Linked DNA regions of Homo sapiens. The protein of the gene in region 1 purifies or fractionates together with the protein of each later gene. This does not show direct contact. Each region holds a gene or a part of one and is shown on either strand. Other genes may lie near its edges.

The links.
Region 2: the proteins of KIF14 (region 1) and KIFBP purify together in Homo sapiens (affinity purification with mass spectrometry; 4 studies listed by BioGRID and IntAct, with this or other methods). This does not show direct contact.
Region 3: the proteins of KIF14 (region 1) and SUCLG2 purify together in Homo sapiens (affinity purification with mass spectrometry; 2 studies listed by BioGRID). This does not show direct contact.

What each region holds. Positions count from the first base shown.
Region 1 is NC_000001.11:200,589,647-200,596,751, forward strand, and holds part of KIF14 (kinesin-like protein KIF14), read right to left. Parts: intron 4,124-7,105; coding exon 4,021-4,123; intron 2,595-4,020; coding exon 2,434-2,594; intron 627-2,433; coding exon 479-626; intron 1-478. UniProt on the Homo sapiens protein: Microtubule motor protein that binds to microtubules with high affinity through each tubulin heterodimer and has an ATPase activity. Plays a role in many processes like cell division, cytokinesis and also in cell proliferation and apoptosis.
Region 2 is NC_000010.11:68,984,476-68,991,802, reverse strand, and holds the start of KIFBP (KIF-binding protein), read right to left. Parts: upstream 3,001-7,327; 5' UTR 2,971-3,000; coding exon 2,545-2,970; intron 676-2,544; exon of another isoform or gene 1-675. UniProt on the Homo sapiens protein: Activator of KIF1B plus-end-directed microtubule motor activity. Required for organization of axonal microtubules, and axonal outgrowth and maintenance during peripheral and central nervous system development.
Region 3 is NC_000003.12:67,525,613-67,532,612, forward strand, and holds part of SUCLG2 (succinate--CoA ligase [GDP-forming] subunit beta, mitochondrial isoform 2 precursor), read right to left. Parts: intron 3,575-7,000; coding exon 3,475-3,574; intron 2,611-3,474; coding exon 2,520-2,610; intron 1-2,519. UniProt on the Homo sapiens protein: GTP-specific succinyl-CoA synthetase functions in the citric acid cycle (TCA), coupling the hydrolysis of succinyl-CoA to the synthesis of GTP and thus represents the only step of substrate-level phosphorylation in the TCA.

The DNA.
Region 1 (7,105 bases):
TCTATTATCGCCACCAACTTTTTTCTTTTTTTTTTTTTTTTTTTTTTTTTTGAGACAGAGTCTCACTCTGTCAAGGTTCACTGCAGCCTTGACCTCCCTGGGCTAGATGATCCTCCTAGCTCAGCCTTCTGAGTAGCTGGGACTACAGGCGCATGCTACCACACCCAGCTAATGTTTTAAACTTTTTGGAGAGACCGGTTTCCCTACATTGCCCCTGGCTGGTCTTGAACTCCTGGGCTCAAGTAATCTGCCCGCCTTGGCCTCCTAAAGAGCTGGGATTACGGGCATGAGCCACCATGCTCAGCCCTGACTTATTTCTTAAAGTAAAATTAAAGAGGGCCAAGACTCACTGTGGCTTTGATTCACTAATCTCTGATCTCTCCCAGTTCCCTTATAGGGACATAATCAACTTTATAGGCAACACATCACTTGGGGTACACTGTCGGAAAAAAAAAATAAAACTAATTCTGCCTTTTACCAGTTCTGCTTCCAGTGCTTTTATTTTGCTTTCATATGCAGCTTTTTGAGAAGAAAGCTCTTGCTGAGCCATTTCTTTTGCAATCTGGATTCCTTGCATCATTTCTTCCTTTGCCTTCAACTGAGCCTCTTTTATTTCTGCTTCAAGTCTACAATGTAGCAAGATGTTTATAGGGTACATGTTAAGAATTCTTTATACATCATAATAGTTCTTAATCCTACTGAAAAGTTTTCCATTGAATGAAAGTTTCAATCTTAAAACTTGATTTCTGACATTCTATCAACAGTGTTTTTAAAATTTTCACTGGCTCTACAATTGTTTACACTCAAAATTTAAACACGCAGGACGAAAAATTGCTTATTTCTAACTTAGTTACTATTGCAGATGCCTGACATTTAAATAAAATCAGTGCTTTAGTAACTACATTATACAGAAATTTCCATTCCCAATTTTACTGAAAAAAAGAATAAGAGTATAAAAAAGAAGGTTAGTGGATATCACAGCTAGGGAGAGAGGAGAATGGCTATTGTTTAACAAATACAGAGTTTCAGTTTGGAATAATAAAACATTTCTGGAGATGGATGATGGTGATGGTTGCACAACAACGTGAAGGCACTAGGGTGGGCACAGTGACTCACGCCTGTAATCCCAGCACTTTGGGAGGCCAAGGCAGGTGGACTGCTTGAGCTCAGGAGTTCGAGACCAGCCTGGGCAACATGGTGAAACCCCATCTCTACAAAAAAATTCAAAAATTAGCCAGGCGTGGTGGTGTGCGCCTATAGTCTCACATGCTCGGGAGGCTAAGGTGGGAGGATGGCTTGAGGCCAGGAGGTGGAAGTTGCAATGAACCCAGATCATGCCAACTGTACTCCAGCCTAGACGACAGAGCCAGACTCCATCTCAAAAAAAAACCAAAAAACAAACAAAAAAAAAACCACAAAACAATGTGAAGGTACTTAATGCCTTTGGACTATACAATTAAAAATGGCTAACATGGTAAATTTTGTGCTATTTATATTGTATTCAATTAAAAAAATTCTTTTTAAAGGGCAAAAGCAGGTTGAGGCTTCTTAAAAGGTGACAAAGCAGTTAGTCTAGCCTATAACCAGTTCTTGATTCCTCCTCCTTTCATCCTCTTTAGTCACCAGGCCTTGTCAATCTTATCTCCTTTATGTTTCCTTCCTACCTAATCACACTATATTTACCTTACTTCAATAGTCTCTTAGCTGCATTTGCAGGTTTTAAGCTTGCTCTATCTCTAATGCATTCTCCAGATTTGAGTGCCAGTGATCTCTCTAAAAATGTAATTCTGATTATGAGTGTCTCACGTCTGCTCAAAATTCTTTAATGTTTCCCTTATCCTTTAAGATAAAGTCCAAACTCTTTAGCATTTTATTTGTATATACTTTACCATTTAGCTTACAAGGATACTACTTATGCCAGAAATCCTACGATACTGCATGAACTAAAACTGGGGCACAAGAAGAAAAGAAAAACAAAAGTACACTCTCCCAGTCTTCCTCTGGCTAAATTCTAATCGTCTATTGGGATTCTCCTCTATGGGACGTCTTCTCATCTTCTAGAAACCTTCCCTGATAACCGGTCAGGGCCAGGTGTCACCCCGTGAGCTTCCACACCACACAGTTCGGGACTCTTGTCAGAGAACTGTGTCATAGCACTGTTATAACTGTCAGCCCCTCGAGATGATGAATTCTTTCAGCACATGAGCTAAATTTCAATCCTTATTCTTTATATCTCCAGCATTTGGTACAGTGACAGACACATAATAGATGGTCAATATATATTTGGTGAACTAATGAATGTACTAAGAGAAAAAATTATATCACTAGAAACCAGCACCCAAAGAGTTAATTACTAGAGACTGGCACAATGTGATTAACTCTGTTGTAGATCTCTCTCATACACTTACTATTTCATATCAACAGCATACTTACTGTGATCTCTGTGCCATGAGCAACTCATTTTTTGCAAATTCAAAGTCTTTTGGACCCTCACTTATAGGAGTATCTCTTCCAGATGGCCTTTTTCCTTTCTGGACTTCTACTGGATGATTAAATCTAAAATAATGATCTCCACCAAGAATCACTCGATCACCCTAAAGCACACAAAAAAATGTACTACTTGAGGTGAGTCTCAACCAAAAAATTAAATGAGAAAATTTATTTTGCCCAACAATTCAATATAGTCTAGTATTAATGATAAACATAAACATCATAGCAACTAACATTTATTACTTTTTTTTTCTTTTGGCACAGAGTCTCACTATGTCACCCAGGCTGGAGTGCAATGGCACAATCTCAGCTCACTGCAACCTCGGCCTCACGGGTTCAAGCAATTCTCCTGCCTCAGCCTCCCGAGCTGCTGGGATTACAGGCGTGTGCCACCACACCCAGCTAATTTTTGCATTTTTAGTAGAGATGGGGTTTCACCATGTTGGCTAGGCTGGTCTCGAACTCCTGACCTCATGATCCACCCACCTTGGCCTCCCAACGTTTATTACTTTGTATATACCAAACACTGCATTAAGCACATTACACATATAGTCATATGTCTCTTAACAACAGGGATATGTTCTGAGAAGTACACTGTTAGGTGATTTCATAGTTGTGTGAATATCATGGAATGTACTTACACAAACCTGGATGGTATAGCCTACTACACACTTAGGCTATATGGCATAGCCTATTGCTCCTAGGTTACAAACCTGTACAGCATGTTACTGTACTGAATACCATAGGCAACTATAACACAATGGTAAATAATTGTATATCTAAACAGAAAAAAATACAGTAAAAATACAGTATTATAATCTTATGGGACCACTGTTACATATGTGGTCCCTCATTGCCCAAAACATCATTATGAAGTGCAAGACTTTATGTTATCTCATTTACGATTCACAACAACTCAGTGAGATACATATAATCATCCCAATTTTAGGAATGAGGAAACTAAACAGCACAAAGCTTAATAATAACAAGAGACATTCATTGAGAGCTTACTATTTGCAGATACTATTCTAAGAACTATATACACAAATTATTATTTCAGTTAATCCTTCACTATCTCTGAAAGGCAGGATATATAGAGTCACAATAGGTCTGGGTTTGCCTGTAACACACTGCTGATGTTTGTTCTCTTGATGTAATTATTAATAATGATCTCAAAAGTGTCCTGACTTGGGTGACATTGTTTAATCATCTAGTTAAATAACTTGCCAGACGTCACAGAGCAAATGGCAAAGCCAGGATTTCAACCCTGTCTGTCTGATTCTAAAGCCTAGCTCTTTATAGGACACATAATGATGCTATTAGTGGTCAGCTCTTCAGGTACTGATTCATATAAATGTAACTTTTGTCTTTGCACAAGAAAGCAATTAATAGGAAAAAGAATTTTTGAAATGAAAAAGTCCTTAATCTGCTTCAACACCCTTATCTTATAGAGAAAACCAGAACTCAAAGAAATTAAATGACTTATCCAAAGTCGAACAGTTTCTTATATTATAGCACCCATCCACTTACATGACGTAATACTGTGATTTCCAAAATATGTTTTCCATTTACATATGTCTTTGCTTCCCCAACTGGGATAATACTCACTGTCCCACCAAAATTTTTGATAGTACTGTTAAAATAAGAAGCACATAGTTAACAATTATAGAACACACTAAAAAGTAAGAAAAAGGCAATATGGGATAATTCTGCTTGGGCTATTCCTTTGGTGTTAAGATTCATACCAATATGTAACAATAATTTAAAATTATTTTATTTTCCTCCAACTAGTTTTTTTTTTTTTTTTTTTTTGAGACGGAGTCTTGCTCTGTCGCCCAGGCTGGAGTGTAGTGATACAATCTCAGCTCACTGCAAGCTCCACCTCCTGGGTTCAAGCAATTCTCCTGCCTCAGCTGCCTGAGTAGCTAGGATTACAGGCACCCACCACCATGCCCTGCCCAGCTAATGTTTGCATTTTAGTAGAGATGGGGTTTTGCCATGTTCGCCAGGCTGGTCTCTAATTCCTGACCTCAAGTGATCCACCTGCCTCGGCCTCCCAAAATGCTGGGATTACAGGCATGAGCCACTGCATCGAGCCTCCAATTAGATTTTGAAGTTTGGTGAAAAAAGCCTGGCCTCTAGCAATCCGATCCACCTGTGGTGGGAACATTCTTCATTGGGTGTATTTTTATTATAACTTCTTTGAAAACAAAAACCTTCCCCCAAAAATTCAAAAAAAAAAAAAAAAAAAAAAAAACTAGCAAAAAACATTAACATACTGCCAGTGATTTCTTATGAATAAAACAGTTTTAAGTGTTTTTTTAATTTTCTAAGCTTCTGGTTTTACATATGAGCTTTAATAACAGAAAGAACAAATATTTCTCCCCTTTTGAAAAGTAGGGTACTACAGAGGAAGGAAAAACATGGAGATCAAAGTGTACCCCTTAAGACATCTAATTTACTGGATGATAAGGTGATACTGTGGAAAATCAGCTATAAGTGCTACATATTTGAGTCTTTTTATTCAGAGAATAGGAAAGAAACTCCAAAGTCCAATTCATCTTTGGATTAACGGGATAGAAAGAAAAACTGCAACAAAAGCTGAGTCCTAACCAAAGATCTTTTTAGCTGTGGATTAGGCTCCAAGATCTGTGATTAGAGAATAATAGTTTAATTAAAGCATCTAGAGAAAAGTACATGGAAACAATAGTTCACCCTTAGGCACTACATCCCTCCTACCAGTCTAGTGTCTTATCCAGGTGAAGGTTTATACAATGTGTACTTGTTCTGATCCCTTTCCTCTCCTAATTCTATCTACTCTGCTCTCAAAATTCCATGGCCTACCATTCTGGACGCCCCACAATCTGGCTTCAACCACCAACCTCCCTCATCTGCCACTATTTTCCCATAAGAACCCCATTTCACACTTAATCAACCATATGAATACTCTGAATTTGCCTTAATGTCAGCTTTCCTCCTTTCCTTGAGTCATTCCTTCCAGATAGGACATCCTCTCCCTTCTTGCAACCATTCTTGAAGGCCCAATTTAGAGTCCTCTAAGAAGCTGTTCTTTAGGGTTTAAGTTAGAAGTCAACTCTTCCTTCTCTTCACTTCTAAGCAGTAAGTATGCAGTACTCATAACACTTAATATGCATTAATAGATACTGAAGTTCTTTTTTTCTCTTTCACATGACCAGCCTCAGCCATGAAGTTCTTTTATTCATTAAGCCTCCAAGAGCCAGTTATGTGTCAGCAATGAAGACAGACATGAAATCAGCTTTCATAAAGTTCATGGTCTAGTGAACAAGATAAACTGAGGAAGGTACGAAAAATGGAAGTAGAGAGTTAGAGGCAAGCAAGAGGCTTCCAAGTTCCTTACTGGACTCTTAACTCTTTGGGAGCATGTTCTGTATCTTTGCCACAGATGTTAATAATACTGTATTTATTTGTTAAAGAAAATAATTAATTAATAAAAGAGCAAAAGAACCTAAAGAACAAAAGGATATGCCCTAACAGATATAAAGATTCATGGCCAGGTGCAGTGGCTCACGTCTGTAATCCCAGTACTTTGGGAGGCCAAGGTGGGTGGATCACCTGAGGTCAGGAGTTCAAGACGAGCCTGGCCAACATGATGAAATCGTCTCTACTAAAAATACAAAAAACTAGCTGGGCATGGTGGCTGCTACTCAGGAGGCTGAGGCACGAGAATCGCTTGAACCCAGAAGGTGGAGGTTACGGTGAGCCAAGATCACACTACTGCACTCCAGCCTGGGTGATAGAGTGAGACTCCATCTCCAAAAAAAAAAAAAAAAAAAAAGATATAAAGATTCATTACAGGCCGGTCGTGGTAGCTCACACCTGTAATCCCAGCACTTTGGGAGGTCAAGGTGGGCGGATCACCTGAGGTGGGAGTTTGAGACCAGCCTGGCCAACATGGTGAAACCCCATCTCTACTAAAAATACAACAATTAGCCAGGCGTGGTAACAGACATCTGCAATCCCAGCTACTCAGGAGGCTGAAGCAGGAGAATTGCTCGACTCCAGGAGGTTGCAGTGAGCTGAGATGGTGCCACTACACTCCAGCCTGGGCAACAGAGCAAAACTCTGAAATCAAAAAATAAATAAATAAAGATTCATTACAAAGCTCAAGTAATTACGACCATGGGGTATTAGTAGGAAGAAACAGATTCTGATATTTTTAGAAATTTTTTGTAGGAGCACTACAGATTCCAAAAGAAGCAATAAACTATTTAATATTTGGTACTGGGAGAAATGGCTATTCATGTGGAAAATAAATGAATTTAGATCCCTAATTCACACCAAATAAAAAATTCCAGACATTCAATAACTTAAATGTGAAAGCAAAACTTCAAAACATCTAGAAGAAAATTTAGAACATCTCTATGACCTCAATGTACAACAGTCTTTTTTTTTTTTTTTTTTTTTGAGTTAGAGTCTCACTCTATTGCCTAGGGTGGAGTATAGCAGAGTCATCTTGGCTCACTGTAGCTTCCACCTCCCAGGTTCAAGTGATTCTTATGCCTCAGCCTCCCAAGTAGCTGAGACTATAGGTGCCCACCACCATGCCGGGCTAATTTTTGTATTTTCAGTAGAG
Region 2 (7,327 bases), on another chromosome or scaffold:
AAATCAACTCATTCTCTGTCAAAGAGTTCTTCCAAAATGCCAAGTCTACAAGAAGGGATGTGTGGCAAACCATCTGCATGGGGCTCTCCCACACCAGCCCACTCTCAGGCCCACAGCCTTTACCCTTTTGCTCAGGTGCACTTCAGAAGTGCAGGGATATTGAATGCCTGCTCAAGGTAGACCAAGGAGCCTTGATGGATGTCAGCTAGCTTTTTGTACTGCACGTGATGACCTCCAGCACTTGCTGCCAATGCCTTAGCTTTGTCAAGTGCTTCTGGACCAGTGCATGTCTCCAATGTTATTCATTTCTTAGTTCGGAGACATCGACATCCTCATTGATAACTTGCTCTGGTTTCTGGACAGATAATTGCAATCTTTTTTGTAGGAAAGAAATATTCTGTCTTGCAATATCCAGAAACTTGTGTATACACCGATCAACACCAGTTCCAATTTCTTCCTGATTGCTGCCATTGACATAGTCCTGACTTAACGGAGAGGCAAAGCAAGTCTGGAAAGATGACTCCATGTCATCCACCAAAGTACTGTTAGAAGGTCTCAGAGGCCCTGGAGCTGCTGGTAAGTAAAGGAAGCCTGGCCCCAGAGCCCCGGTGGTGGTTGGGGCCCCGATGGCTGCCCAAAGAACATACTGCCTAGCAAAGCAGCCATGCCTGGAATAATTTTTTTTTCTTATTTTTAGTAGCGATGAGGTGTCACTATGTGCCCAGGTTGGTCTTGAACTCCTAAGCTCGAGTGATCATCTCATCCCAGCCTCCCAAAGTGCTAGGATTACAAGTGTGAGCCACCACATCCGGCCTTTTCTACATAATTCTAAATATGGCTTATAGTCTTCTTCCTCCCTCTTCATATTGCCAATTTTTGTTAATATAAATTATTATTTTTAATAATTGTGTACTGTTCTTCTGTTTGGATGTAACGGAATTTAATCATATTCCTACTGACATTTATATTGTTTTCCTTTTCTTTGCTTTTTGAGACAGGGTCTCACTCTGTTGCACAGGCTGGAGTGCAGTGATACAATCTTGGCTCACTGCAGCCTTGACCTCCTGGGCTCAAGCGATCCTCCTGCCTCAGCCCTGCGATTTTCCTTCTTTAATAATCAACACTGCTGTGATAAACATCCATGTTCACCTGTCCCAATATTATTTTAACTTTTTAAAGTATTTTTCTTTTTTTCACCCCTTCTTTTCACAGGTGTTGACCAATATTACTTTAGAATATTGATGTGGATTTTGTTGTTGTTGAGAAAAGGTCTTGCTCTGTCACCCAGACTGCAGTTGCAGTGGCATGATCATGGCTCCTCCAGGGGCTCAAGTGATCCTCCCAGCTCAACCTAGCCTCCCCAGTAGCTAAGACTACAGGCGTGTACCACCATGCCTGGCTAGTTTTGTGGGTTTTTTGTTTTGTTTTGTTTTGTTTAAGAGACAGAGTCTCACTTTGTTGCCCAGGCTGGTCTTGAACTACTGACCTCACGCCATCCTCCCACTTCGGCCTCCCAAAATGCTGGGATTACAGATGGGAGCCACTGTGCCCTGCCCAGATTTATTTAAGAAACCAAGTACCATATAAATGGGAAACAAAAAGTATTATAAGAATTCAAAGGTAGGAGGGAGAGATCAGTTTGGCCCAAAATGGTCCCAAGAAAGTTATTAATACTAAAGGAAGTGATTCTTGAGATAGGTTTTCAAGAATGGGGAAGAATTCCCTAAGATGCAAACAAATGAATTTGGTAAGAAAGGAAGCTGCAGATTTTGGACATTTTATTTTGAATTAAGAATGTATTCCGAGCCAGGCACAGCGGCTCAGGCCTGTAATCCCAGCACTTTGAGAAGGTGAGCCAGAAGGATCACTTGAGTCCAGGAGTTCAAGACCAGCCTGGGCAATATAGTGAGACCCCCATCTCTACAGAAAATTAAAAAAATTACCAAGAATGGTGGCATGCGCCTGTGGTTCCAGCTACTATGAAGGCTGAGGCAGGAGGACTGCTTGAGCCCAAGAGGTGGAAGCTGCAATGAGCTATGATGGTGCCACTTAACTCGAACCTGGGCGACACAGTGAGACCCCATCTCTAAGAAAAAAACAAAAACAAGACAAAACCAAAAAAGAATGTACTCCGGTCATTGTCATTTCCTTGAGACGTTAAGATTTAAATTACTTTGGATTTTCTTAACAGAATGAACAGGAGTTGGACTGGTGGAGAGGAAAGCGCATGACGATGTAGGAGGGTCTCGGACACCAATGCATCGCCACGTCTAAGTGAAGCAGCAGCAAGCGATATTGGTGTGGGCGACGAGGGTGGACACGGAGTCTGGGGACGGCCGACTGTGGGAGATCTAGTTACAAGGCAATAAGTCCATAAGACTGGCTTTTTTGAAGACCACAGACGCTCTTTGGGACTCAGTCCAGAGCTACAAAAACGTGGGGACGAATTGCGCCTTACAACGTCTGCCCTTGGCCTTGGCAGGGGCTCCTCCCCATCCCTCGCCATTTGCCAACAGGGGCCGGCCTGGCCGGGCTCGCTCTCACCTGCGCCTGGATGCAGAGAGAGATGCAGTCGTGCGAGAGCCGGTACCTGCGCAGCAGCCGCAGGCATTTCACCAGGTGCTCCTCCCCCGCCGACAGCTCCTCCGTGTCGATGTGGTTCACCCCGAGGTGGAACTCGATGACTGCCAGCCTCACCGCTCGCTGGGCGACGGGCCCCTCGGGCTCCACCACCTCAGCCGGCAGCCCCAGGGCGTGGTCACCGGCACCCGGGCCGTCCTCGGCCTCAGGCCGCTCATCCTCGTCCTCAGGCGCAGGGCCGAGCAGCGCCTTGACCTCTTCCAGTAGCGCCCGGGCGCTGTATTTGGACTTGTATGGTTCCTTCTCCGGATTTTTATGCAGTTCCACCCGCGACAGAGCGAGCGCCGCCTGGAATTTCTCGCAGACCTCTGCCCACGGAACGTTCGCCATAGCGGCCTCTACTGCCTGGCTTTCCTCAATGTTTGCAGTCGGGACTCCCGCCTTCCTTCTGCTTTGCGACACTTTACTTACGGCTCTCGACACGTTGCGGCCGCTGTGGAATGGGAACCAATATAACCCTCCCGGAGAACCGCAATACGCTCGGCAATGACCAATGGGAAGACGCAGCAATCACCACAGCAACCATTCTCATGGAAATGAAGTTGTCAATGAGCGTGTTCCCACCTCCTTCCCCGCCCCCTGCAGCGGTGAGTTTATCTCCAGATTGACCCTGTGAGGATGGATTTATATAAATGTTTAATATCGGCTTACTTTAACGAAGCATATCGGAATATTGTTTACAAACATAGCTAGCTAACTCTACTCGCGTTGATATGAACTGAAAGGCAAAAACCTTTAGACATTAAGTGTATAGCCCAGCCTGTCACTGGATAAAACTTTTTTTAAAAAAGGCCAGGCGCAGTGGCTCATATCTGCAATCCTAACATTTTGGGATGCCAGTAACATTTTGGGATGCCCACTGGAGTGGGCAACATAGCAAGACCCATCTCTACATAATTTTTTTTAAAAAATTAGCCGGGCGTGGTGGCGCGCGACTGTAGTCCCAGCTACCATGGAGGCTGAGGCGGAAGGATGGCTTGAGCCCAAGAGGTGGAGGTTACAGTGAGCGAGACTGCCTCAGAAAAAAAGAAAACACGAGCATTAGAACAAATACCTAATGTATGCGGGGCATAAAACTTAGCTGACAGGTTGATAGGTGCAGCAAACCACCATGGCACATGTATACCTATGTAACAAACCTGCATGTTCTGCACATGTATCCCAGAACTTAAAAGTAAAATAAAAGAAAAAAAATTGAAATGTAGCCAAGAGCTGATTATTATCATTGACACATAATCTCTTGATCGAGAGCCATAAATATACAAAACACTCAGTGATAGACAAATATTTTCACTTCGACCCTGAAATACAGGTTGTAGGAATCTGTACAACTGCCCAAGGTAACAAGAGCTAAGTCCCACAGCTGTGAAAGCCGCCTCATGCCTTTTACCTTCCTAAGTTATCAAGTCAAATGGGGAGGGGTGATAGAAGATTTTAACTATTAAGCACCAGCTGTGTACAGTGCTTTGAGACATACAAAGGAGCATTGATTTTGGGAGCTCATAGACATATGGTTTGAACCTCAGACCAACCAGCTTTCTTATTGACAAGTTAACTTTTTTAAGCTTCAGGTTTCCCACAGTAAAATCTGAATGATACTACTTACCTCGACAGAATTATTCTGAAGAATAAATAAAATTAAACGTCTATCCTTTAAGTGTTAATGCTCCTAAAAAGTCCTTCCTAAACCTTATCCCTGGGAGATCTCATCCATTTCCAGGTCTATCATTAAACACGCTGCTCACTCCCACTTTGTCTCCAGGCCAGATGGCTCTCCAGAGCTCCAGACTGGAATATCCAACATCCAGCTACAACAATCACACCTGAATGTTTCAATAGCTGCTGTGTGTCAGTATGTTCAAGTCTAAATGATCTTCCTCTTCACATGCCCCTTCCTTCCCATACCAAATTTGCCACATTTGCAGTTCTACATGTCAGTGAATGGCACCACCATCCACCAGGCTGATTTCCTGCACTTTTTTTTTTTTTTTTGGTAGAGATGGAGTCTTGCCATGTTGCCCAGGCTTATCAAGCAATCCTCCCACCTCAGCCCCCTAAAGTGCTGGGATTACCAAGCCCAGCCTGTTCTGTCATTCTTTTTTTTTTTTTTTTTTTTTTTTGAGACGGAGTCTTGCTTTGTTGCCCAGGCTGGAGTGCACTGGCGTGGTCTCAGCTCACTGCAACCTCAACCTCCTGAGTAGTTGGGATTACAGGTGTGCACCACCACACCTAGCTAATTTTTGTATTTTTGGTAGAGACGGGGTTGGGGGGGCGGTTCACCATGTTGGCCATACTGGTCTCGAACTCCTGACCTGAAGTAATGTGCCCGCCTTGGCCTCCCAAAGTACTGTGATTACAGGCGTGAGCCACTGCACCAGGCCTCTTCTGTCATTAAACCTAAAACCAGATAGTACTGCTTAGTCCACCTCCTAAAGAGCTCTGTGTACATCTTTTTATCTCCATTAGTTTAGGCCACCATCATCTGATTACTTCTAACAGGCAGTCCTGCTGCCAGTTTGGCCTCCTATCAGTGCATCTCCCAGTACATTTAAAATGATTTGGGCCAGGCGCAATGGCTCACACCTGTAATCCTAGCACTTTGGGAGGCCAAGGTCGCGGGATCGATTGAGCCCAGGAGTTCAAGACCAGCCCGGGCAACATGGCAAAACCCCGTATCTACAAAAAAATAAATAAATAAATACAAAAATTTGACAGGCATGGTGGTGGATGCCTGTAGTCCCAGCTACTCAGGAGGCTGACATGGGAGATCACCTGAACCTGGCAGTTGGAGGCTGCGGTGAGCTGTGATCAAGCCGCTGCACACCAGCCTGGGTAGCAGAGTGAGACCCTGTCTCAAAAAAAAAAAAAAAAAAAAAAAATTTGTTCACCTGTTCAATATTTAGTTATCTATTATTTGCCAGCACTGTTGTAGGTGCTGGGAATTCAGCAGTAAAAAATGGATAAAAATTCACCAGCCTGGACAATATAGTGAGATCCCTGGCTCTACAAAAAACATCTTTTTTTTTGAGACAGAGTCTTGCTCTGTCACCCAGGCTGGAGTGCAGTGGCATGATCTCAGCTCACTGCAAATTCTGCCTCCCGGGTTCACGCCATTCACCTGCCTCAGCCTCCCAAGTAGCTGGGACTACAGGCGCCCGCCACCATGCCCAGCTAATTTTTCTACAAAAAACATTTTTAAAGAAATATTGGCCAGGTGTGGCGGCACATGCCTATAGTCTTAGCTAAGTGGGAGACTGAAGTAAGAGGGTCATTAGAGCCCAGGAGTTCAAGGCTGCAGTGAGCTATGATCATGCCACTGAACTCCATCCTGGGTAACAGATAGAGACCCTGTCTCAAAGAAAGACAAAAATCCATGCCCCGGTATAGGGAAAACACTAAATATATTAAATACATAAACCTCAATGCAATGACTGGAGATCCATCTCATGACAGATAATTAGAAGAGGGCGGGCATGGTGGCTCACACCTATAATCCCAGCACTTTGGGAGGCCAAGGCAGGACGATTGCTTGAGGCCAGGGGTTCACAAACAGCTTGATCAACAGAATGAGACTCCATCTCTATAAAAAATTTAAATATTAGCCAGGTTTGGTGGTACCCCCCTGTAGTCTCAGCTACTTGGGAGGCTGAGAGGGAAGATCACTTGAGCCTAGGAGTTCAAAGCTGTAGTTCTACCTTTAGAAAACGTATCCTAAGGTGACAGACGAGTATGCAAACACATATGTGAGGATATTAACTTTAGGGTTGTTTATAATGGTGAAAAATTAGAAATAACCAACATGGACATCGAGTACTGGTTAAATGTGTAGTGGCATATCCATACAAGAAAACATGTCATCAAAAATGTCCATGTAAGCCTGTACAAAATTGTGCACAACATGTTGAGGGGGGAAAAGCAATACACAAAATCAAATAATTCCAATTTTATAAATGAACATGTGGAAGACTGCTCACTAAAATATTAGATAAGGGTGACTGGTTTTTTTTCTCTTTAGATTTTTATATCTAGCTTTTATTATTTTTATAATAAATATTTCAAGCTATTTTCATTTTAGAAAACAAAAGCCACTAAAATCAAGTATTACTATCTTTATTATGGTATACAGCAGTATTTTATACATTAGCTCATTTTATAGTAAAAACATTTATGCACAACTGTAGAGAAACTGCTGCACAGATAGCTCCAACTTAAATTAGAAAATATTTTCTTTGTAGAAAATAGTAAAAATTATAACATTTACCAAGCTAACCCAACAAGTTCATTTAAACCAAAAAGTAGCTAAATACATTATACATTTATAAATACAGGTTGAATTCTGGGATCCAGGAGAAACTTTAGTCCTTTATTGAAATAGCCATGTTTTAAGTTATGTGAAGTGAAATTTCTATTAATCTTCTCTCTTACTCTTAATTTATGCCAGATTATTTTTCTTTAGGCTAAATCCATAATCCACAACAAGGTTTTAGCTGTTCTTTTCTAAAGGACGGGTACCATATCCTTTTAATCTGCTTGATAAGGTACCCATGCCTATCCAAATAATGAAATGGTTCAGTTATTATTAAAGCATGCCCAGTATTTGGGCAAAACCAGAATCTAATAAATTACACTGTCACCTAATACCCATGGCTTGATGGGAAGCCATGAGGAACAAGGGTAAAGTGATAAA
Region 3 (7,000 bases), on another chromosome or scaffold:
CAACTTATTCAAAAGTCAACTCAAAATGGATCACAAACCTAAATATAAAACATAAAACTATAAAACATCTAGAAAAAAACATGAGAAAATTTTTATTATGTAGGGCAACGTAAAGAGGACTTAGACCTGATACTAAAAAGGTATAATCCATAAAGGAAATATTGACGTATTGGACTTCATCAAAATTAAACACTTTTGCCCTGCAAATGACCCTGTTGAAAAAATGAATATATACGTTATATAGTGTAACAGATAATACTTACAAAGCACATATCCAACAGTGGACTAGTACCTAGAATAACTCAAAACTCAATAGTAAAAACATAATCTAATTAGAAAATGGCCAAAAGAAATTTGCTTTGTCTCTTCATGCTGCTGTTACAAAATACCTGAGATTTGGTCATTTATAAAGGACAAAAATATATTGTTTCACAGTTCTGGAGGCTGGGAAGTCCAAGATCAGTGCACCGCCATTTAGTGATATGGCCTTTCTTGCTTCATCCTCACATGGCAGAAAGTGGAAATGCAAAACAGGTCTAAGCTAGTTCCCTTCAGCCCTTTTATAAAGCACTACCAGGGATGTCCAATATTTTGGCTTCCCTGGGCCACAATGGCATAAGAAGGATTGTCTTGGGCCGCACATAAAATACACTAACACTAACAATAGCTGAGCTAAGAAACTAAAATTGCAAAAAAAATCTCATAATGTTTAGAAAGGTTACAAATTTGTCTTGGGCCACTTTCAAAGCCATCCTGGGATGCCTGTGGCCTGTGGGCCGTGGGTTGGACAAGCCTGCACTAATCCATTCATGAGGGCAGAGCCTTCATGACTAATCACTTCCCAAAAGGCTCTGCCTCTTAATGCAAACCACAATGGGGATTAAATTTCAACATGCATTTTGGAGGGAGCATTCAGACCATAGCATCCATGAACAGACAATTCACCAACCACAATCTACAGATGGCAAATAAGCACATGAAAAGATGTTCAACATCTTTAGCCATTAGGGAAATGCAAATTAAAATCACAATGAAATATCACTACACACCCATAAGAATGGCTAAAATAATACCACCACCACCAAATGCGGGCTAGAATGTGGAGAACCCTGACCACTTACACATTGCTGATGGCAATGTAAAATGGAACAGCCATGCTGGAAAACATTCATCAGTTTCTTAAAAAAACTAATTATACAACTTCCACATAACCCAACAATTATCCCCCAAAATGAAGATTTATATTTATACCAAAAACCTGTTCATGAATGTCTAGAGTGGCTTTATTTGTAATAGCCAAAAACGAACCAACCCAGATGTCTTTCAACAGATGATGGTTAAACAAACTGTGGTAGGTACATCCATATCATAGATTGCTACATAGCAAGAAAAAGGACTGTAACGGGATTATTACACATTGTATGCCTATATCAAAACATCTCATGTACCTTATAAATATATACACCTACTATGTACCCACAAAAATTAACAAAAGAAAATGGAACTAAATACTGATAAATACAACAACTTAAGAGTTTTCCACAAAACTCTCCCTGAAAAGTAAAAACAGGATGTCACCACTGCAGTGTCCTGCAGCATGGTGCATTGGTAGAGACCACTGATCTGTGACGCTATGTCAACAGAGCAGACAGCTGCCACCCCAAAATGCAGGACCCTAATTCGCTGTTAGGACAGGATCTTCTAACCATGGATGCTTTTCAGGGCTGACACATGTGATCTGTGTAGTTGTAAAGGGATTTAATGTTTAGCTATAGCTGTCTTGAAATTTTAACACGGGTCCCTGCCTTTTTATTTGGCACTGGATTCTGCAACCCAGGTAGCTAGTTCTAGTGTCTGGATACACAAAAGGGATGGTGAAAGGTAGATTGGCAGGAGGGAGAGTTAGGTTCTGGTCTCAGCTCTACCACTCACAATTTCATGACTGAGGCAGGCCACTTTCCTCTGGGCTTTATTTTCTATGTGTGGATGAGGGGTGTGTGTCCACATGCTATACATACTTGGGTACTTCAGCTGACCTTCCTAATGCAATATACCCCCAGCAATAAAAATGGCTCAAAATTACAGTCATCCTAAAATAAGGAATGGGGCATTTAGAAAAACAACCACAATAGGTAATTCTGACAGACACGCCTGGGGTTGAGGGCCACTGTGTGGGAGCAGCGAATGTCCCTCACTGAGTATAAGGCTGTCACAGCAAGCGCTTCTCAACTAAATAGAATGCATCTGTGTTCTCAGAGGGAAAGCCATTGCTCGGTCACTCACCCTCACCCACTTTTTGCTAAATGCTAATGATAATAAATAATATTACTATCATAGAGCCCTTTTTATTTCTCCTCCAAGACATACTACTTACTAAACAGATTAGATGAGCTTTAAAAAATAAAATGGCACACTGCCAAAGAGCAGTACTTCATTAGATTCTGTCAAAAACTGAAGGATGGTTTTCTTTTCTATTTTTTAACACATATATAGAAAATGACCCAAAGTATCCATATTACCTTGTTAACTTTCACACCTTCTTTTGGAGTTTGTTTTGTCGCTAGATTGTACCCAATCATCTGTTTAGCCAGCTGTCCCACAACATTAGGGCTAAGAGAAAGAGAAAACAAGCAGAAAATGAATGTTTGTTGAAAATCATTTAAATGAGAGTCCTTACACAGAGCCTCATGTCTACACTGCAAAGGGTTCACCTTCACCCTCACAAAATCCATGAGTCTTTCTGCTTATGTGCTGCGTGTTTAGCACTGTACTAGAGGCTCACTGAGAGCAAAATAAAAGTGAGTTCATGAATGAATAAATGAAACAAAAGATGCTTTGTGACCTCTTCACCCAAAAAAGTTACAGTCATAGTAAAGAGAGAATGCTGAAATGCACACCAGATTCAGATAAGGGTTGACTGAAGATCCGACAGTGGAAAACTGGGGAGATATTGAACAATGAGAGGGAAAGGAAGAGGGTAAAGATCAAAGTAAATAGTAAAAAGGTGTGTGACAGGAACAGGGAGGAGAGGAAAGTGTTCAGTGCTAGGAGATGCAGGAGATGAAGTTGAAAAGACAGGCTCAAATAAAGGAAGGCTTGGACTATCAGAGGGGAGGTACCCCAGATGCCACTGGTAATGGGGAGTCCCTTCAGGTCCTTGAATAGAGGAGTGACATTATGGAAGTAGCATTTCAGTTGGAAGTGGTATCATTTCCAACATTTATGATGAATCATTGATTGTTTAGGACAGAAGGACTGTCAAGTTTTCACCAATTAGTAAGAAAAATCATTTTGTGGGGGCAGAAGGAAAACTAGGGCACTGCCAGAGCCCTCTACCTATGATTTCAGTTTCTTCTAGTTGCTTTGGCCCGCTCCTACCCCACCACAACCAACCTCAGTGTGCCTTTCAATCTTGAGCAAGATCTTCCATAACTGCTTGGCCAAAAGACAAGGAATAACAACCTCCAGACTTACTCTTTTGTTAAATGAACACCTCCTTTCAAACCACTATTGAAGACACCTTTTCCTCTTCCTCCAGCTAAGATCTGGGCTTTTAAAACAATTTCTTTTGCATCTGAAAAAGAAAAATCCAGAGTTGGTAGCTGATTTTAAATTCTTTTTTTGTTTTTTAAGCAATAAGGAAAGCAATAATGGCACATAACTTCCAAGTAACTGGTAAAAGCTCTCTCAAACTAACTTTGAAAATAAATGCAATGAAGAACTTCAAAAAAACATCTATGAGCCTAAATACAAAGCTTGTTTACTGAGGATATTCAAATGCTTCCTACCAGTTTAATCATCTAATACTTGACCTTCCCAAGGGAAAGCAAGACATGTGTTCCCTTGCTCTTTTGAGTGTGTCAGAAGAAGCTAAATAAATCCTGGAAGGAGGTATTAATTTTACTGTGTAATGGCACTCCCATGTGGCAGAGGCACCAGTTGGCCAGTAAGAGGAGCTAACCATCAGAGATGTCAAAGGGAAGACTGGATTATGCGGGGGAAGGTTTAAAGACAAGACACAAAGGTCATAGTTAATAACTGCATTATTGGAAACCAACAGTTTTCTGAGCAGTTGTTCTATATACTGATAGGGTTGGGAAAGGGAGGAGGAAATGGATTAAAACTAAAAGCAAGCAATATTTTAAAATCATTGGCAAGGTAACAAAATATCCTGGGGGAAAGTGGTTGTGGAATCTTTGTTTCTCATCACACTCCACGAATGAAAGAACTCTCTAATCTTGACTTTTTAGACGAGAGTTATTAACACAAATATCTTCCCTTGCAGGGAAGTTGGGTGCATGAAGTAGCCCAGTGACAAATGGGGCCTTTAGCAAACAGGGTAGCTCCCCTCCCCAACCACCAAAACAAAACAAAACAACAACAAACAAAAAACTGCCTCCAAATCAAATATGTTTAATAAACCAAATAGCACACAACTGCAGACCACAGCTGATATCCTCTGTTTGTGAGTCATCTTTATTTAAAATCACAGAACCCAGCTGATCCCCTATAAGGCCATGAGAGTATTCTGGTTCAGTATACCAGATTTAGAATCTGCAAACCCAGGTTTCAATCTGGCCTTCATCCCTCACCCAGCTGTGTGACATTAGGCAAGTTACTTAATGTCTCTGAAACTCGGTTTATTCAACTGTGAAATGATGACAAGGGTTGTTTTAAAAATTAAATGAACACACATGAATGCTTTATCCCAGAGCCTGAAAACTTGTGATTAATTAAAAACTATTGCCTCGACCAGTTAGTTCATTTATTACCTTTGTATATTGTAAAGAATGAAAGGAATCATTACAGAGATGGCTAAACCAAAAAACTAACAAGCGCTCCATTAAGTTTGGTTATTTCAGCTATTACTGTCACTGTCATCATCATTGTTACCCACAGGCAAGCAGGTAAAGGTTCAAACGGAAAGAGCTGTGGAAGGTTTTATCATCAAGGCAATGGGGAGCTACAGAAGTATTTTACAGAAGGCATTCAGCCAGCTGATGTCACACCATTGAGGCTCCTTCACTGCCTTCATTGGTTAGTCTTCTTGTCTCCTATATTTGCTTACACTCAGAAAGCTGAAGCCCACCTTCTTCTCAGAAGCAAACACAGTTTTTTCTTAGAAGGCTGTCCTGTGTACCCTCTGGCAATAATTTCTGCCCTGGATACGAACCATCACAACATTGGTCAAGCCCTGTCTTATAATAAACTGGTTTCCATCAAGCTGAGTAGAAGACAAATTAATTGTCAGAAACTCACAAGGAAAGCAACCAAGTAAAATGAATACATTGCATATTTAGCTTACTGCAAGAACAGTAGTAAGAGCAAGGATATTGGAGTTAAACAGACCTGGTTAAAATCTCCAACTCTACCTATCACTTTCTTTGTAGAGAAGAAACAACTGAGATTCAGAAAGGTAAAAGTAGCATGCCCTTCTGTAAAGTAGTCATATTAAAGAAGTCTACAGTGTAAGGATGATGTGAAGAATAAATGAAATACAGTAAAGTGCCTGGCACATTTTTTTAAAGTCAAAATATGATAGCTATCAACATTATAATAATTTTCAGCAATTAAGAAAAAATGGCACACAGGAAGACATTTCCTGTTTTTCTTTGGAAGACATCAAGTGGAAAAAATACTTTTTGCTGTCTACTCAAATTTTTAATTGTGATCACTTCAAATTCTTTACATAACTGGCATTCCATTGCCATTATCATTTTTCATATCCTTGTCATCCTGAAGAGATGCTTTCCTCTCTGAGCTTTCCAGCAGCAAAACTTGAAAGCCAGAGAGAATACCTAATTGGGCATTGTTAATTGGCACTACATAGGCTTGATTAGATCAGCTTTAGTCACTAACCATCAAGACACAGAAAGAGTTGTATCCTCAATGAAGTGTTGTCAATTAAACGTGTCGCCATTTGACCTCCAGTCAAAGTATTCCATGCAAAACAGTGTTGGTAGAACAAGCAACCAGTTCAGAGACTATGAAACCAGAGATCAGGACAAATAGAAAAAGACAACAACCTACGCACATCTGCAACATACACCCCAGGCCAAAAATGAGTTCACTAAAATCATCTCTTCTGATTACATCTCAAGTGCTAAATCAATATAGTAAGTCAGCAAGTCAGCAGCCCAAAGTAAAGCAAGTTTTTCTCATCTTGAGAAAAACTCTCATGAAGTAATTTAATTCAAGGCTTATTTACTCAAGGTGCTGAAAATTAAGATGACAAATCCCACTCAACAGTAACTCGTCTCTTCATTCAGTATTTACCAAATTGATTCACATGTACTAAATGTCACTGTTTCTATTTATTTAAAGATCTGATCTCTCCCAAAACTCAAATTTCTGTTTTTATTTAACATTGCCTCTTGCCCCAATCCTGAACGGTATTAGAAAAGAAAAAAAAATCCCATATATGAAATGCAATTTTTGTCTGAATAAGACGACTTAACCATCCTTTAGAAAAACAAGCTAAAAGGACAGAGGAAAAAATTAACTCTAATATGAGTTGGGGTTTTATTTTTGTTTTTTGTTTTAGACAGAGTCTCACTTTGTCACCCAGGCTGGAGTGCAGTGGTGTGATCTTGGCCCACTGCAACCTCTGCCTCCCGGGTTCAAGCGGTTCTCCTGCCTCAGCCTTCTGAGTAGCTGGGGTTACAGGCACATGCCACCATGCCCAGCTAATTTTTTGTATTTTTAGCAGAGATGAGGTTTCCCATGTTGCTCCAGCTGGTCTCAAACTCCTGAGCTCAGGCAATCTGCCCACCTCAGCCTCCCAAAGTGCTAGGATTACAGGCATAAAATAGATTTTATATAGAAGTAGACAACAACCTAGACATTGATAATTATATTATTGGACTCTGAGTTGGTATAACTTGGGTCTGGATAACTCCAAAGTCTTTGCTCTTAATTGCTATTTTTATACGCAGTAGCCTAAGTATGCAACGTCTTCACTAAATTTTGTTCCTTTCTTAGTGAGTTTCTGAAAATAACC